Regions from separate parts of the Homo sapiens genome. Here region 2 is linked to region 1. The links come from fine-mapping of genetic effects on gene expression. Tissue or cell type: whole blood. Region 1 holds a variant in brackets; the other region holds the start of a gene. All regions are shown on one strand. Distances are from middle to middle.

Region 1 (8,179 bases):
GCCAGCCCCCAAACACCTCCCGGCGATGCTGGCCGCCCCCGGTCTCGCGTTCCGGATCCCCTCACCTGCGTAGCACGGTGGGCTCGGGATACCGTCCTCCGGGTCCCGCGCCGCGAGCTTCGTCCTGCGCGCCACCATCTTGCCACCCGGGAGCGCGGGGGTCGCCGGGAGTTGCGGTTCGGCGCCGGCGCGAGCGCGTTTTTGTGGCGCCTGCCCCGCCCCCTCGCTCCAAGCCCGCCTCCCCGGCCCCGCCCGCCATGGCTCAACCTTCATCCGCTCAGAGGCAAATCAGCGCGCCAAAGTGGGAGTGAATGTCAGAGTCGACCCCGGCCAGTCACGAGTGCGAACTCAGCTTTCCACTCATGCATTCACACGTTGAATAGGCAGTGTGAGAGAAATCCAGGATGGCTGCTAGCTTTTCAGTCTGAGCAACTAAGAGGATGGTGTTGCCATTGACTGACATGGGTAGACTGCAGGAGAGGGGCCAGCTTAGGGAAAATCGAGTAGATCAGTTCTCTGTGGGCCGTGGTGAGATGCCCATTAGGCCACTCAGGGGAGATGTCAGGTGGGCAATCAGATATGAGACTCAATAGTCAACTATTTTTTTTTTTCTGCCGTCTCACTGTGTTGCCCAGGATGGAGTATAGTGGCATGATCACAGCTCACTGCGACCTCTGCCTCCTGGGCACAAATGATCCTCCATTTCAGGCTCCTGAGTAGCTGAGCTAATTTTTCGTTTTTTGTAAAGATAGGGCTTCACTATATTGCCCAAGCTGGTCTCGAACTCCTGAGCTCCAGTAATCTTCCTGCCTCAGCATCCCAAAGTGCTGGGACAAGAGGCATGAGCCACCATGCCAAACCGACAGTCAACTATTTTTTTTCTTTTGAGACAGAGCCTCGCTCTGTTGCACAGGCTGGAGTGCAGTGGCGTGATTTCACCTCACTGCAAACTCCGCCTCCCGGGTTCAAGTGATTCTCCTGCCTCAGCCTCCTGAATAGCTGGGATTACAAGCGCCCACCACCGCGCCCCTCTAATTTTTGTAATTTTTAGTAGAGACAGGGTTTTACCACGTTGGTTAGGCTGGTCTCAAACTCCTGATTTCATGCGATCTGCCTGCCTCGGCCTTCTGAAGTGCTGGGATTACAGGCGTGAGCCACCATGCTGGCCCCAATAGGCAACTTCAAATGTGGTGTCAAGGCTCCCAGAGAATGTTCCAGGCACAGGAAATGGAGAAGTGACCATCTTTAAAAGCCTAGGCACAGAAATGGCAGAGTCACATCTGGTCAAAGTAGTAACAGAGCACACTTGGGTTCAGGAGGGGCACAGGACCCCACCTTCTGGAGAGGAGTATCAAGTAATTTGCATCCCTGGTGGGGAGCAGTGGCTCATGCCTGTAACTCCAACACTTTGAGAGGCTGAAGCAGGAGGATCACTTGTGCCCAGGAGTTCAAGACCATCCTGGGTATCATAGCAAGAATCTGTCTCTATTTTTTAAATAATTAAGTTCCACCCCAAATGTTGAAATCCCTGCAAGATTAAAACCCTTGGCTGGGCGTGGTGGCTCACGCCTGTTAATTCCAACTTTGGGAGGCCGAGGCAGGCAGACCACCTGAGGTCAGGATTTCAAGACCAGCTTGTGCAACATGGTGAAACCTCATCTCTACAAAAATTAGCCAGACATGGTGATGCACGCCTGCAGTCCCAGCTAATTGGGAGGCTGAGGTGGGAGGATTACTTGAGTCTGGCTGCGGAGGTTGCAGTGAGCTGAGATAGTGCCACTGCACTCCAGCCTTGGCAACAGAGTGAGACTTTGTCTCAAAAAAAAAAAAAAAAAAAAAAAAAAGATAACTCAAAGGTAGGAATAACAAATGTTTATTCAGAAATGGATAAGTAATACATAATCACCCTTCATCTCTTAATGCCCCTTCCTCTCCTTCTGCACAGGAGACACAGATGGGTAACATAGAGGCATGGGAAGTGGAGGAGGACACAGGACTAGCCCACCACCTTCTCCTCCCGGTCTCCCAAGATGACTGCTTATAGAGTGGAGGAGGCAAACAGGTCCCCTCAATGTACCAGATGGTCACCTATAGCACCAGCTCCAGATGGCCACGTGGCTGCAGCTGGACTCAATGAAACTCTGTGACAACCAGAAGATACCTGCTTTGGGATGAGAGGGAGGATAAAGCCATGCAGGGAGGATATTTACCATCCCTACCCTAAGCACAGTGCAAGCAGTGAGCCCCCGGCTCCCAGTACCTGAAAAACCAGGTCCTACTGCCTTCTGGATGCTCTCTTGGGCCAGGAAGGGAAAAGTGTGGGAGGAATGTCTTCCAGCTGCTAACGAGAAGTCTGCACCCACTTGAAAGGGTTAGGAGAATAAAAAGCAGCATTCTTTAAAGAACTGCAAGTGGAGCACCACCAGGCCCCTTCCTTGGACTTTCCCGTCCTGGGCAGCCTCAGAGCCTGCACACTGAAGCTGGGTTCAAATCCTGGGTCCTTCCTGCCTGACAGACTGACCCCTGGAAACATGAGTCTCTGGTTTTTTTCACTGGGCTAGCCTCAAGCAAATCTTGGGAGCTCTTGAGTATCTTCGGCATGTGCCTTTTCCAGCACTTGCTACTGATTTTGCAGAGCTCCCAGAACCGTGCTCCCCAACTGGCTCCAGCTCTGCCAGCCTGGATTCTCTTCACTCCCAACCAGCAGGGGACCACTCAGTGACAACACTGGCCTGGTCATTCAGGGACTGCCTGGGCTCTGAAGTTTCGTCCCAACTGTCTGCGCCTATGCTGGGGAAACACCTTGCCTGGTAGAGCTGCCCTGCTCCCTTGACTCCTCCTCCTCTGCCAAGGCAGGAAAATAATCCTCTGGTCATGGATGGATGGGGTCACTCACATAAGTGGGAACAAACAGTGCCCCTTGGTGGCAGCTGGATATATGCCTCCAGGCATCCCTGACCACTGTCCTGTAGACAACTGAGGCCAGAAATGGAGAGCCAGGAACAAACTGACCTCTTCCATTCAAATAAGCTCCAAACCCAAGCACTGCACAATGGGAGGCTGAGCCTTTCAAAGGCCCAACCAGAAGAGAGCTGGCGGCTACACAAAACCAGGGTGTGGTTAAGTGCCAGGCGAGGTGAGAACCGGGAGGGCTCACAACACAGCCCCCTCCCAGCAAAGACACCCAGAAGGGAAAGAGAGCTGGGGTGGGGCATTCAGCACAACTCAAGGAAAAGGGAAAGGTGAACTCTGGAGAACTTCCTCTGGGTGGAGACGACACGGGACTCCAAGCCAAGAGCTTAGATAGACTCTTCCCAGCGGTGCAGCCTCATCCTGCCCTTGCCACTAGTGAGGCCTGGAGCCACTGGGGAGAGGACAAGAGGCCTGAGACCTGCTCCCCACCCAGGCACCTCCACTGACAAGACAGAGGAGCGGCACAGCTCTCAGGCCGACCTGGCTCCCGTCAGGACACCAGGGCTCTCCATCCCCTCCATTGTTTGAAAAGCTTAATACACACAAAGGAAAGGCAGCCCCTCGGCCCCTGGAAAAAGCAGGGTCCTTCAGACAGCCCCCACGCTGCATCCCATGGGGCCACAAGAAAGCCACCCAGAGAATTCAGTGTACCATTTCCAGATAAGAAATCAGCTTGGGGCTGAGGCTCGGGGAGGCACACACTGAAAAACACAAGCCTACCTTGGCGATGAGATGAAGAAACATACTACAGGAAACGTTAACGTAGAGAGAAGAGCACAGGGCAGAACACAACACAGAAAGGCGGGTCCCATCCAGTGAGGAAGCTCTTTATCCCTGGCAACCCTTCCCACAATCAGGGGTCTCCAGTCCGATGGCCCATTGGTCATAAGCTTTGCCTTGGGGAAACAGAGCCACCCTCCTCTGCCCCCACTTCTGGCTGCCTCACTCCCCTGCTCAAAGCTTGATTTTGAATTCTGTGGGCTGCGTGGTCACAGAGGCCCCTGAGGACTTGAAGAGTGCCTTCAGGATGGTGTCAGGGTCCACTTCGGCAGGGGGGTTGGAGGAGGAGGCAGAGTTCACCCTGCGAGGCAGCTCGCTCTCCTTTTTCATTGATGGGCTGTCACTCAGCCGCCTGTGGAGAGCAGAGAAGAGTCAAAAATTCTTGTCAGTTTTTCCTTAGATGGGGAGGGGACCCACCATTTACTGGGCATCTGTCATGAGCTAGGCACTGGGTGTAACACTTTCCATACCCCTTCATCTCATTCCACCTCGCAGCAAACTCAATCACAGCTCACATCAGCCTCCATCTCCTAGGCTCAAGCAGTTCTCCTGCCACAGCCTCCTAAGGAGCTAGGACTACAGGCGTGTACCACCATGCCTGGCTCATTTTTAAAATTTTTTGTAGAGACCAGGTCTTGCTATGTGGCCCAGGCTGTGTTTTTCTTATTTACTGATGAGAAAATGGAGACGCAGGCAGTGCTGTATGTTCTAGGGTTTTGTGGGGTTTTTTTGAGACAGAATCTCACTCTGTCACCCAGGCTGAAGTGCAGTGGCATGATGATGGCTCACTAGTCTCGATCTTCCAGGCTCAAGCGATCCTCCCACCTCGGCCCCCCAAGTAACTGGGACTATAGGTGCATGCCACCACACCTGGCTAATTGTGGTTTTAAGTTTAGGAAACACTGCATGTTCCTTCTGGATGGTAACATCCATTAGCATATTACACAAT[C/G]TGAGAAGCCCGAAAGTGAAACAGATGTAACTCTGTTTAGCCCAGTAGTTCCCAAACTTATTAGGTTACAAAACCCTAAGAAATATTTCTTATTCCTTGAACACAGTTTAAGAACTTATCCAAATCACATAATTCATTACCCAGGGTTCAAATCCTAGTCTTTTTAAATCTCAAAGTCTATTTCAGCCCTGCCCCACACTATCCCACTCACCCTGGCAAGTCTAACCTCCTCCCTGGTATCTGCTTCCTTATCTAGAAGGTGAAGTCCTCACAGTCTCAACATTTTATGCATCTCAGGCTTCAAAACATCCCTCAGTCCTGGGCCAGGCATGTATACTCAGCTGTGTGCAACAAAAGCCTTCAATGGCTTCCCACTGTACTTAAAAGCCAAATCCAGCTGGGCGTGATGGTGTGCGCCTATAGTCCCAGGTCCTCAGGAGGCTGAGGGGAGAGGGTTGCTTGACCCCAGGAGTTTGAAACCAACCTGGGCAACACAGTGAGACTCTCAAAATAACTGAAAAAGCAAAAAACAAACAAACAAACAAACAAACAAAAAACCTCACTGGGGAACAAAATAAGGGGTAGCATCTGGCACTGTCTCCATCAGAGCCAATCATGCAGTGGAGTTCTCTGTTCCCGGGATGATGCACACAGCTAGGAGACCCAAGCAGCCTCCCCCTCCAACTTCCACTCAGATATTTCTAAATCAGAAAGCTGAGAACGAGATCATAATGCTAGTCCCTATAGGGTCAAGCCCTGGGGAAATAACAAAGCAAACCATTTTGGTCAAGTTTAAGCATATGAAACGGCCAGCTGCCATTAGAACAGAGGAAACGGAATGGGGGGATGAAGGGGAGCTGTGATGCAGGCAGTTTACCCATTAGAACAAAAAGAGATGGACGGAGCTGCCTCTCCCCAGCACCCCGCCTTTGGAACTCACAGCAGGATGGGCTGGTCTGAGGTGATAACATTCCCATTCATGTGAAGGTTGCACTTCATCGGCTGCCCTGAAAAACCAAAGAAAGAAAAAGGCTCTGCTATGAGACCTCGGCTCCTCACACAAGAGGACAAGGGCTGTACCTCCATTATCAATGGTCAAAGCACCCACCACTGGCAGTTCTGGCTCCACAGATGGAGATGGGGCTGCTAGGTTCCAGTCAAGCCAGACACTAAGAAAATCCCAGGGCGTGAGGAAACCTCAGCAGTGGAGCACCAAGAGGCAAAGTGGCCACAAACCTTGCTTCATACAGGAAGAGATGAGTGGGAAGTGAGGGAGAAACGAGACTCAATGTGAAGCCATCCAAGTAGTAAGGGAAAAGGTTTATGCTATCAAATTCAGTGAAAAGATGATCAAAAGCATTATGTACAGGCTTCTACTCTGTCTACAAAGGATGAAGCACTAGGAAGACCACACTCCCACTGTATACAAAGCATAACATGTGTAACGGTAATAGCACAAAAAAGAGGAAGAAGGAACAGGGCCATGTGGGAGTAACATTTCCATATCTTACTCGAGTTAAGTTAGTGAATACATCATTAAAGGAATTAAAATATTGGGGAAAAAATGTGAAAGAAAAGCCACTGAAGAGGAACAAAAAAGTAAAATGGGGCCGGGCGCGGTGGCTCACGCCTGTAATCCCAGCACTTTGAGAGGCTGAGGCGGGTGGATCACGAAGTCAGGAGATCGAGACCATCCTGGCTAACATGGTGAAACCCCGTCCCTGCTAAAAATACAAAAAATTAGCTGGGTGTGGTGGCGGGCGCCTGTAGTCCCAGCTACTCAGGAGGCTGAAGCAGGAGAATGGCGTGAACCTGGGAGGTAGAGCTTGCAGTGAGCAGAGACCACATGCCACTGCACTCCAGCCTGGGCAACAGAGCGAGACTCCACCTCAAAAAAAAAAAAAAAAAAGTAAAATGGAAGAAATAAACCTAATTATCAATATTAAATATGAATGGATTAAATAATCCAATCCAAAGACAGATTGTCAGATTGAATTCAAATAAAAAAAAAACCAGTAAGATCTAACTATACACTCTCTATAGGTGACACATTTTTCTTTCTTTCTTTTTTTTTTTTTTTGAGATGGAGTTTCGCTCTTATTGCCCAGGCTGGAGGGCAATGGTGCGATCTCGGCTCACGGCAACCTCCGCCTCCTGGGTTCAAGCGATTATCCTGCCTCAGCCTCCGGAGTAACTGGGATTACAGGCATGTACCACCACACCTGGCTAATTTTGTATTTTTAGTAGAGATGGGGTTTCCTCATATTGGTCAAGCTGGTCTCGAACTCCCAATCAGGTGATCCGCCTGGCGGATTACAGGAGTGAGCCATTGTGCCCAGCCTAGGAAACACATTTTTACAGTTGATGAGAGAAAAAGATTGAAAGTAAGAGTGGGCCAGGCTTGGTGGCTCATGCCTGTAATCCCAGCACTTTGCAAGGCTGAGATGGGCAGATCACTTGAAGCCAGGAGTTTGACAGCAGCCTGGCCAACATGGCAGAAACCCCATTTCTACTAAAAATACTAAAAATTAGCTGAGTGTGGTGGTGCACACCTGTAGTCTCAGCCACTCAGGAGGCTGAGGCACAAAAATCGCTTGAACCTGGGAGGAAGACGTTGCAGTGAGCCAAGATCATGCCACTGCATTCCAGCCTGGGCGACAGAGCGAGACTCCGTCTCAAAAAAAAAAAAAAAAAGTGAACAAAGATATATCACTCAAATAGCAACCCTAAGAAAGCTGGTCTTTTACTTATTAGCTTATTAGCTATTAGTAATATAAAATGAAATATACTTTAAAACAACAAAAAAAGTGACTAGAGGTAAAGAGAGATTTAAATTTGACTGAAGGGTCAATTCATCAGGAAGAAAACAATCAAACATATATGCAAGTAACAACAGAACCTCAAATATATAAAATAAAAATACACAGAAGTGAAAGGAACAGACCAACAGTAATAAAGATCTCGCCGGGTGCAGTGGCTCACACCTCTAATCCCAGCACTTTGGGAAGCCCAGGTGGACGGATCACTTGAGGTCAGGACTTCAAAACCAGCCTGGCCAACATGAGGTCAGGAAATCAAGACCATCCTGGCTGACACAGTGAAACCCCATCTCTACGAAAAATACAAATATTAGCTGGGCGTGACAGTGGGCACCTGTAATCCCAGCTACTTGGGAGGCTGAGGCAGGAGAATTGCTTGAACCCGGGAGGCAGAGGTTGCAGTGAGCTGAGATCATGCCACTGCACTCCAGCCTGGGTGACAGAGGGAGACTCCGTATCAAAAAAAAAAAACAGAACCTCAGTATTTCACTTTCAATACTAGATAGAACCAAGCAGATCAACAATGAAACGCACTTAAACATTACAAAGCAACAAGACATAATAGACATGTACAGAACATTCCACCTAACAACAAGAAAATACATATTTTCCTTAAACACTCATAGAAGAAAAGAAAATCTGGAAAATTCATGAATAT
Region 2 (8,158 bases), 29 kb after region 1:
AGGTGTGAGGAACACAAAACAGAATGGCTGCTTTTGAGAACAAGCACATTCCACAAATGTGATCCTTGGGATCACAGGAAACAAAGTGAGCAGAGTGGTGGGGAAAGAGGTTATTTACACTTCCACAAGCTGGATCTTTGGCTATTTCTACTAAGAGGAAAAAAGCTTTCTTAAACAACAAAATTCTTCCTGGAATATCCATGCAACATTAAAACCAAAGTTCCAAGTACGCAGATTCTTCTAGGCAGTATGTAAAATAGCATGTATGGCCAGGCACGGTGGCACTTTGGGAGGCTGAGACGGGTGGATCGTTTGAGGTCAGGAATTCAAGACCAGCCTGACCAACATGGTGAAACCCCACCTCTACTAAAAATACAAAAAAATTAACCAGGCGTGGTGGCGCATGCCTATGGTCCCAGCTACTTGGGAGGCTGAGGCAGGAGAATCGCTTGAACCTGGAAGCCAGAGGTTGCACTGAGCTGAGATCATGCCATTGCACTCCAGCCTGGGCAACAGAGTGAGACTCCATCTCAAAAAAAATAAAGAAATAAAATAAAAATAAACTTACTGCAGGAAATGACATCTGTTCATTGAATTTGTTCAGATCTTTCACATTATCTTAACAGGGACCACTGGATCTAGTTTTTCTTTGTTGGCTGTGCAGGTGAGATAAAAACGGAGTTTCCAGAAGATTTAACTCAAACTCAGCATGCACTCCAGGTTCTTCCATGCTAGTCTCTCTGCCTGCACTCTTTGCCCCAATCCAATCCCCATACAATGGCAAAGAAATATTTTCAAGCTAAAAATTGAATCATGTTACTCCTTTACTTTAAGAAGCCTTCAATGACAATAACGAAAGCTAACGTCTATCAAGCACTTAAGTACCCGTTGTCAGGAACTTTTCAATGCACTTCAGGTATATTAATTCACTCAGTCCTAACAATAACCTAATAAAGTAGATATTACTCAGGTTTTATACATAAGGAAAGAAAGGCAAGGAATGGTTAAGTAACTTGCAGACGGTCCTAGGGAAAGTGGGAGAAGCAGGGATTGGAAGCTTGGTGGTCTGCGTCTAGAGTCCCAGTGCTCACCTATGCTCCAGGGGCGTTGTGTGCTTCTATGCCTTTAAGGAAAGGTCCAAGATAATTACCAGCCTTTGCTGAACACTTGCCACATGGCACAAACTTTAAAACATACCTTCTGGCCCGGCGCAGTGTCTCATGCTTGTAATCCCAGGACTTTGGGAGGCCGAGCGGGTTCGGCCTGAGGTGAGGAGTTCGAGACCAGCCTGGCCAACATGGTAAAACCCCATCTCTACTAAAAATACAAAAATTAGACAGTCGTGGTGTCGGGCACCTGTAATCCCAGCTACTTGGGAGGCTGAGACAGGAGAATCACTTAAACCCAAGAGGCAGAGGTTGCAGTGTGCCAAGGCTGTGCCACTGCACTCCAGCCTGAGCAATACAGTGAGACTCCCTCTCAAAAAAACAAACAAAAAAAACCCTTCTCACATTTAATCCCGCTCAACCAGGAATCACCATTCCAAGTGAGGAAACTGCCTAGTTCAGAACTCCCCTGGCCAGGGAAACAGAACCCAACAGTGGCAAGTGCCAGGTGTATCCAGCTGCAAGGCCCCTGTTCCTGTGGATCCACACATAACCACCCCCCATTCCTGCAGCCCCACCTACTGCCCAACACAAAACTCTGCACACACTAAAACCAAAAACATAGAGATCAAATAGACTACAGTGCAGTCCACCTGCAGTCAGAAACTGGCGGAGTGACCTCAGAGAGAGAAGAACCTGGGGTGGATCATTCTGTCGTTTCCAAAGGAACCTACAAAACGTGGATGGACTTAGAAGTGGCCAGAGGAGCCAGCACCAGCTTCACATCAGTCACTAGATGGAGATCTGAGAGAGCTTTCACAGTCAGTAGTTGAGGAAACAAATACTAATGTGTGCCCGTTACGAACCACAAGCCAGGTAAGTGCTGGCTGCGAATTATGAGGTGGTGGTGGCAGTTGTAGTTGATACAAGTGTCCAGGATGGGGAAGGAGGTGAGGGATACATTTCAGACATCAAGAGAAAAACCTAACCACAGGCATACGGGTGGTATTAATAAACATCTGCGGAATGGCCGGGCCGGTGGCTCACGCCTGTAATCCCAGCACTTTAGGAGGCCGAGGCGGGAGGATCACCTGAGGTCAGGAGTTCGAAACCAGCCTGACCAACACAGTGAAACTTCCATCTCTACTAAAAATACAAAAATTAGCCGGGCGTGGTGGTGCACACCTGTAGTCCCTGCTACTTGGGAGGCTGAGGCAGGAGAATCGCTGGAACCGGGGAGGCGGAGGTTGCAGTGAGCCGAGATGGCACCACTGCACTCCAGCCTGGGCGACAGAGCAACACCCCGTCTCAAAAAAAACATAAAAATAAAAATAAACATCTGCTGAGAGAACAAATGTCTGAGAAAACAATATCTAACATATTTACATCCTGGCTATTTACAAAGACATTTAAACTTAATGTGTGTTGGGAAACTATTGGGCAAAGTTCTCACTTCTTCATACAGATGAACTCAGCTCACGAAGGCTTGAAATGACTAACAACATTTAAGGGTCTAGGGGAAGTTTGGGAGACATGACTGCAAATCACCTCCATGGCTCCTCAGCCAGCTCAAGCACTTTCTTCTCCCTAAGGAAATAACCAATCTCCTGCCCAACACACCAGTTTTTCAAGCCCATGTAGGAGGCCAACTCAGCCAGCAATTAAATCGCGCTCAGCCCGCCGCTCAGTTCTCCGTGGCCTCGGGCAAGTCACTCTACCACTTCCAGCCTCAAGTTCCCCATCAGTAAAAGGTGGGTAACATGAATAGCTAGCAGACAACAGGACTGTAAAAGATTAAATGAGGCATCGTGTATATGAAAGGGCTCAGAAAACTTAAAACGCCGCACAAAGAGAGGCGAGTGTTAACAGGGGCCGCGTGCAGGGGGATTTGGGCTTGCGCCTCAGCTTCGGCGGTCGGAGCAAGTCACTTCCCCGCTACTAAACTTCGGTTGTCTCAACTCTAAGATGGGTGGAGACCAGGCAGCGCCGAGATCACGGAGCGGGGCCCAAATGCCAGTCCACACAGGCAAGGAGGCTGCGCCGCCGAGACCCCAGGACCCCGGAACGCGGGGGCCCCAGGGGGCAGCCCCTCAGGTCCACGAGGCGGCACCCTGTCCCCGCCGCGGCCCCGTCGGCCTCCCAGGGCCGCCAGAGGGACTGCGCCTCGGCCAGTGGGCGGGCGGTCGGGGCCACGGCGGGGACGGCGGCAGCCGGCCAATGAGGAGCGCGGCTGTGGTCGGGGGCGGGCGCACCCGGTCCTCCGCGTCGCTCCCGGATCGCTACCTCCCCCGCCTCGAGCTCCACTAGGCCGAGGACCCTAAACCCCGAAGAAAGGAAAGGCCTCTCACCGTCCTTTCGCCGCCGCCCCGCGCTTCCTGATGAGTTCGTCCAGGGAGATGTCCGCCATCTTGCTCCGCCGAGCAAGCCGAAAGCAGTCGAGACCCCGCGAGCCCGCCCCTTCGGCCGCTAGGGAGCGACGAACTACTTCCGGCGTCCGCGGACCAACTCTCGCGACAGCCAGCTCAAAGCAGGCAAGAACCGGAAGGGGCGGGGACGTTCCCCGTGAGCCTTCGCGGTGCTGGCTGCTCATCTGCATACGGAAGTTCGGCACATTATGAATTATTTATTTTCCTCGAGGGAAAAAATTAAATGAAAAGCAACAAAATACATTATTAACAAGTGAGACAAACTTCAATGGAACTGGATCATGACCTCAACAGTCAACTACGATAGTCATCATACGCCTAATGAGAATAGAATTCATTACCTAGGAAATAAACTAAAAACGTCCTTATGCCTTAAACTTATGAGTAAGGAAAATAACGATTCGGGGTGACGCCCGAATCCTCACTGCTAATGTGAGACGAATTTTTGAGCGGGTAAAGGTCGCCCTCAAGGTGACCCGCCTACTTTGCGGGATGCCTGGGAGTTGCGATCTGCCCGACCTTATTCACGCCTAAAAAGTAGACTGACTGTGGGGTGGTCGTGTTTTTTGTTTCTTGTTGGTAGGTGGTGAATGCGTTTTTTTCGTTGTTTTCTCCGTTACTCAGGCTGCCAGTTGCTTGGCAGTCTTGTCGCTGGCTGTGGACGCTCTGCACTTCATCACCGTCCCCAGCTGCGCTTTGAGCCGGTCTAAGGTTGCCCACAGTATTGACGTTGGGACCCACGAAACTGGCAATTTCCATGTGTGCGGCCTTACCCAGTTCTCCCAAACTTCTGCGTATAACCGCTTCTCTGTGCTTCAGAAAGATAAGTCCGGCCCCGGCCTCACACAGCAGCTCAGTTCGTGACAGCGTTTAATATGTAAAATGGAGCAAATAATTTATAGGGCGTTGGGAGAGTTAAAGAGACTAATTCATTTACGTGTTAAATACAGGGAATGGCTTTTGCATTGATATAACCCCAGCCTCCAGCATGCGCCAGACCTGACGTAGGTGTTCGGCACATATTTTGTCCAATCACTCTAAAAATACACTCCATGCCCTTAGAACAGGTGGGGTTATGTCCTCTTGGCCATCAGGCATCAGGAGCTCCGTGCAGAAACTGGGTAAGAGGCCAGGAGCGGTGGCTCATGTCTGTAATCTCAGCACTTTGGGAGGCTGAGGCGGGTGGATCACCTGAAGTCAGGAGGTCGAGACCAGCCTGGCCAACACGGAGAAACCCCGTCTCTACTGAAAAAAAAAAAAAGAAAGAAAAAAATTAGCCGGGCGCGGTGGCACGGCCTGAAATCCCACCTACTCAGGAGCCTGAGGCAGAAGAATCGCTTGAACTCGGGAGGCGGAGGTTGCGGTGAGCCGAGATCGCGCCATTGCACTCCAGCCTAGGCGACAGAGCAAGACTCCGTTTCAAAAAAAAAAAAAAAAGAAAGAAAGAAAGAAACTGGGTAAGAGCGATCCTGCAATCCTCCTGCCTCAGCCTCCTGAGTAGCTGGGATTACAGGCCCGCCCCACCACGCCGGGCTCCTTCCCAGACCTCTTTTCCTCACCCATAGAACGGGACCATTAAGCCTTTCCTCCCTTCCAGGCGTGCCAGGAGGAACGCGCAAGAGGTGGGAGGAGGACAGGCTGGCCAGTGGGGTCAGCTGGGCAGTGTAGGGCAGATGCGGAGGACAATTTTATTTTTATTTTTGAGACGGTGTCTCGCTCTGTCGCCCAGGCTGGAGTGCAGTGGCACAATCTCAGCTCACCACAGCCTCCGCCTCCCGGGTTCAAGCGATTCTCCTGTCTCAGCCACCCGAGTAGCTGGGATTACAGGCGCACGCCACCACGCCCGGCTAATTTTTGTATTTTTAGTAGAGACGGGGGTTTCACAATGTTGGCCAGGCTGGTCTCGAACTCCTGACCTCAGGTGATCCACCTGCTTCGGCCTCCCAAAGTGCTGGGATTACAAGCATGAGACACAGCACCCGGCCTCCTTTCTTGTTCTTTTACAACTCATTTAGAGCTGTGTTGATTTTTAAAATTCTTCGTATAGGTAGGTGATACTGCCTGTGAATTCTGCAGCGTAAAGGGCCCGTTACAACTGTTATTTTAAAGGTGTTGGCCAGGCATGGTGGCTCACACCTGTGATCCCAGCACTTTGGGAGGCCGAGGAGGGTGGGTCACCTGAGGTCAGGAGTTTCAGACCAGTCTGACCAACATGGTGAAACCCCATCTCTACTAAAAATACAAACAAATTAGCCGGTGTGGTGGTGCACGCCTGTAATCCCCAGGTATTCCGGAGACTGAGGCAATAGAACCGCTTGAACCTGGGAGGCAGAGGCTGCAGGGAGCCAAGATCATGTCACTGCACTCCAGCCTGGGAGACAGAGCGAGACTCCGTCCCAAAAATAATAAATAAAGGTGTCGAGTCTGTATGGAGAATCGCTGCCTTAGAGCCCTCTCCCATTTTCTGAATGGGGAAACAGACCTGGAGAGGGTGGGAATCGGGTCCAATTGATCCCCTTTTCCCACGTCCCCTTTCCCAGGAGGCAGCCTCTTGTGGGCTCAGGCAGGCCTGTGTTCAAATCCTGTGCCTTTCAGCCTCAGACAGGGACAGAAATGAGGATGAAACCTAACGCGTGTCCATTGCTAGCAGTCCCCCGCCACAGTGTGAAGGCCATTTTGGGTCTGAGATTCCTTTTCCTGCCACTGTAGGTAGTGAGGTGGCCAGAGACAGAATGGAAAATGCGAAGTGAGAGGAGACAGGGCTCTCCTAGTCCCCTAGGTTGGTCTTGGGCCCTCCTTCCTGTGAACCTGCCCCGTCCCCTCTTCTTCCCCACTCCCCTCCAGCCACACTGGCCTCACTGTGCTCCTAGGGCCACCCAGCAAGTCTCCGGAGCACCAGCCTAGCCCCGCCTCCCTCTCCAGCCTCATCGTTGCTGCCCCTTCCAGCCACCTATCTTCTTCGATCTGTTTCTGAAAGTTTATTCCACAAGCTGGTTCCAACGGCAGGGCCTTTGCGTCTGCTGTTTCCACCATTTGAACACCCACCCACCCCAGCATGGCCAGCTCTCTCTTCCCGTCCCAGCCCAAATCCATCTCCTTGGGGCCTTCCTGCTGCCCCGTTTTAAGAACAGCCCCACACCCACCTTGCCTCATCACCTCTGTAATTTACCACCATGCAGATGGCATCCTCTGACTTTCCTGAGCCTCGAGGCTCATCTGACCCTGACAGGAGGCAGCAGCCTCGCGGTGCATTGGGGTGACTGGGGTTGCGTGGTTTCAGCTGGTTTGCCTCTGGGGGTTGGGAATTTTTCTTCCTGTGTATACTTCTCTGCACTTTCCAAATTTTCTACCACAAAGATACATCAGAAATAAATGCTGGAGCCGGGCGCAGTGGCTCACGCCTGTAATCCCAGCACTTTGGGAGGCCGAGGCGGGCGGATCACGAGGTCAGGAGATCGAGACCATCCCGGCTAAAACGGTGAAACCCCGTCTCTACTAAAAATACAAAAAATTAGCCGGGCGTAGTGGCGGGCGCCTGTAGTCCCAGCTACTTGGGAGGCTGAGGCAGGAGAATGGCGTGAACCCGGGAGGCGGAGCTTGCAGTGAGCCGAGATCCCGCCACTGCACTCCAGCCTGGGCGACAGAGCGAGACTCCGTCTCAAAAAAAAAAAAAAAAAAATACAAAAACTAGCTGGGTGTGGTGGTGGGCACTTTTAGTCCCAGCTACTCGGGAGGCTGAGGCAGGAGAATCGCTTGAACCCGAGAGGTGGAGGTTGTAGTGAGCTGAGATCATGCCACTCCAGCCTGGGTGACAAAGGGAGACTCCGTCTCAAAAAAAAAAAAAAAAGAAAAAAAAAATGCTAGGTCTTCCCCAGCCCTTTCCTGACCCCACCCCTTGTGTTGCAGGTCACAGACCCTCGAGGAGCTAGAGAAGGGTTAATATTAGCAAAGTTTTACTTTTTTTTTTTCTGCTCATAAATGACTCTGAAAAAGCCAATACGCAAGAGGCTAACACAACTGTAGTCTAAAGGCAACGTCGAGGTCACTGATATGTCCCTCAGACAAGAGGCACTGCTCAGAATCCCCCTGTGCTGGGGGTGAGGGAAGGAGGGGACGGTTTAGGACAGAGGAATAAATACATGTGGTTGTGGGAGTTCTGCCATCAGGGATGGTGGCCCCAGCCCAGGACCCCAAAACCCTGAGGCGGTGCAGTGGGCTGCCAACCCCCCAGCTCGGGGTTCCCCAAGGCTGCCTCAGTGTTTGGATGGGCTGGAAGGAAATGCTGAGGTTCTGGGAGGGCCCCATGGCCAGCCCCCTCTTCCCACTCTAGCCAGAGGAGAGCCAAGCTCCCGGCTGGCCAGGGCCCTGGGGTAGGGAGCAGTGCCCCCAAGAGGGCTTTCTGGTGTCAATGTCTCATGCAGCGTCAGGTGGTGAGGCCTGGGCCTGGCCCTGAGGCGGGAGTGGGGGTGACAGGCGAGGCTGGGGTGGGCCCTGGCACCTGCAGCTTTGGGCTGCCCATGTGTGTCTGCTGACATCCCGACTATGGTCCACGGCCGGGAATGGTGGGCAGACGGGGCTGCTGGCAGCCCTCAGCCTTATAGTGTGTGTGGGGGGTGGACGAGGGGT

The links. PIP is the estimated chance that this variant, and not a neighbour inherited with it, causes the effect.
Region 2: POLDIP3 starts here. The variant in region 1 is fine-mapped to the expression of POLDIP3 in whole blood (TOPMed, PIP 0.95).

Annotation. Positions count from the first base shown.
Region 1 is chr22:42,581,864-42,590,042 of GRCh38, forward strand. POLDIP3 (DNA polymerase delta interacting protein 3) reads right to left here. Exons shown (of 9, transcript NM_032311.5): 8 at 5,643-5,709; 9 at 1,858-4,105. The coding sequence ends at 3,928. It also overlaps the pseudogene RRP7BP. Among named protein-coding and RNA genes, the nearest start is that of POLDIP3, 29 kb to the right of the region's middle. RefSeq lists a silencer at 1-120. The variant C/G (reference allele first, on the strand shown) is at 4,703.
Region 2 is chr22:42,611,345-42,619,502 of GRCh38, forward strand. It overlaps POLDIP3 (DNA polymerase delta interacting protein 3), which reads right to left and starts at 3,539. Exons shown (of 9, transcript NM_032311.5): 1 at 3,455-3,539. The coding sequence starts at 3,513. It overlaps CYB5R3 (cytochrome b5 reductase 3), which reads right to left. Exons shown (of 9, transcript NM_000398.7): 9 at 6,496-8,158. It overlaps RNU12 (RNA, U12 small nuclear), which reads left to right and starts at 3,900; the gene lies at 3,900-4,049. It overlaps LOC124905127 (a long non-coding RNA gene), which reads right to left and starts at 3,435. Exons shown (of 2, transcript XR_007068118.1): 1 at 569-3,435. RefSeq lists enhancers at 1,759-2,302, 2,847-3,390, 3,391-3,934, 3,427-3,606, 3,687-3,746 and 1 more and silencers at 3,027-3,356, 3,897-3,956.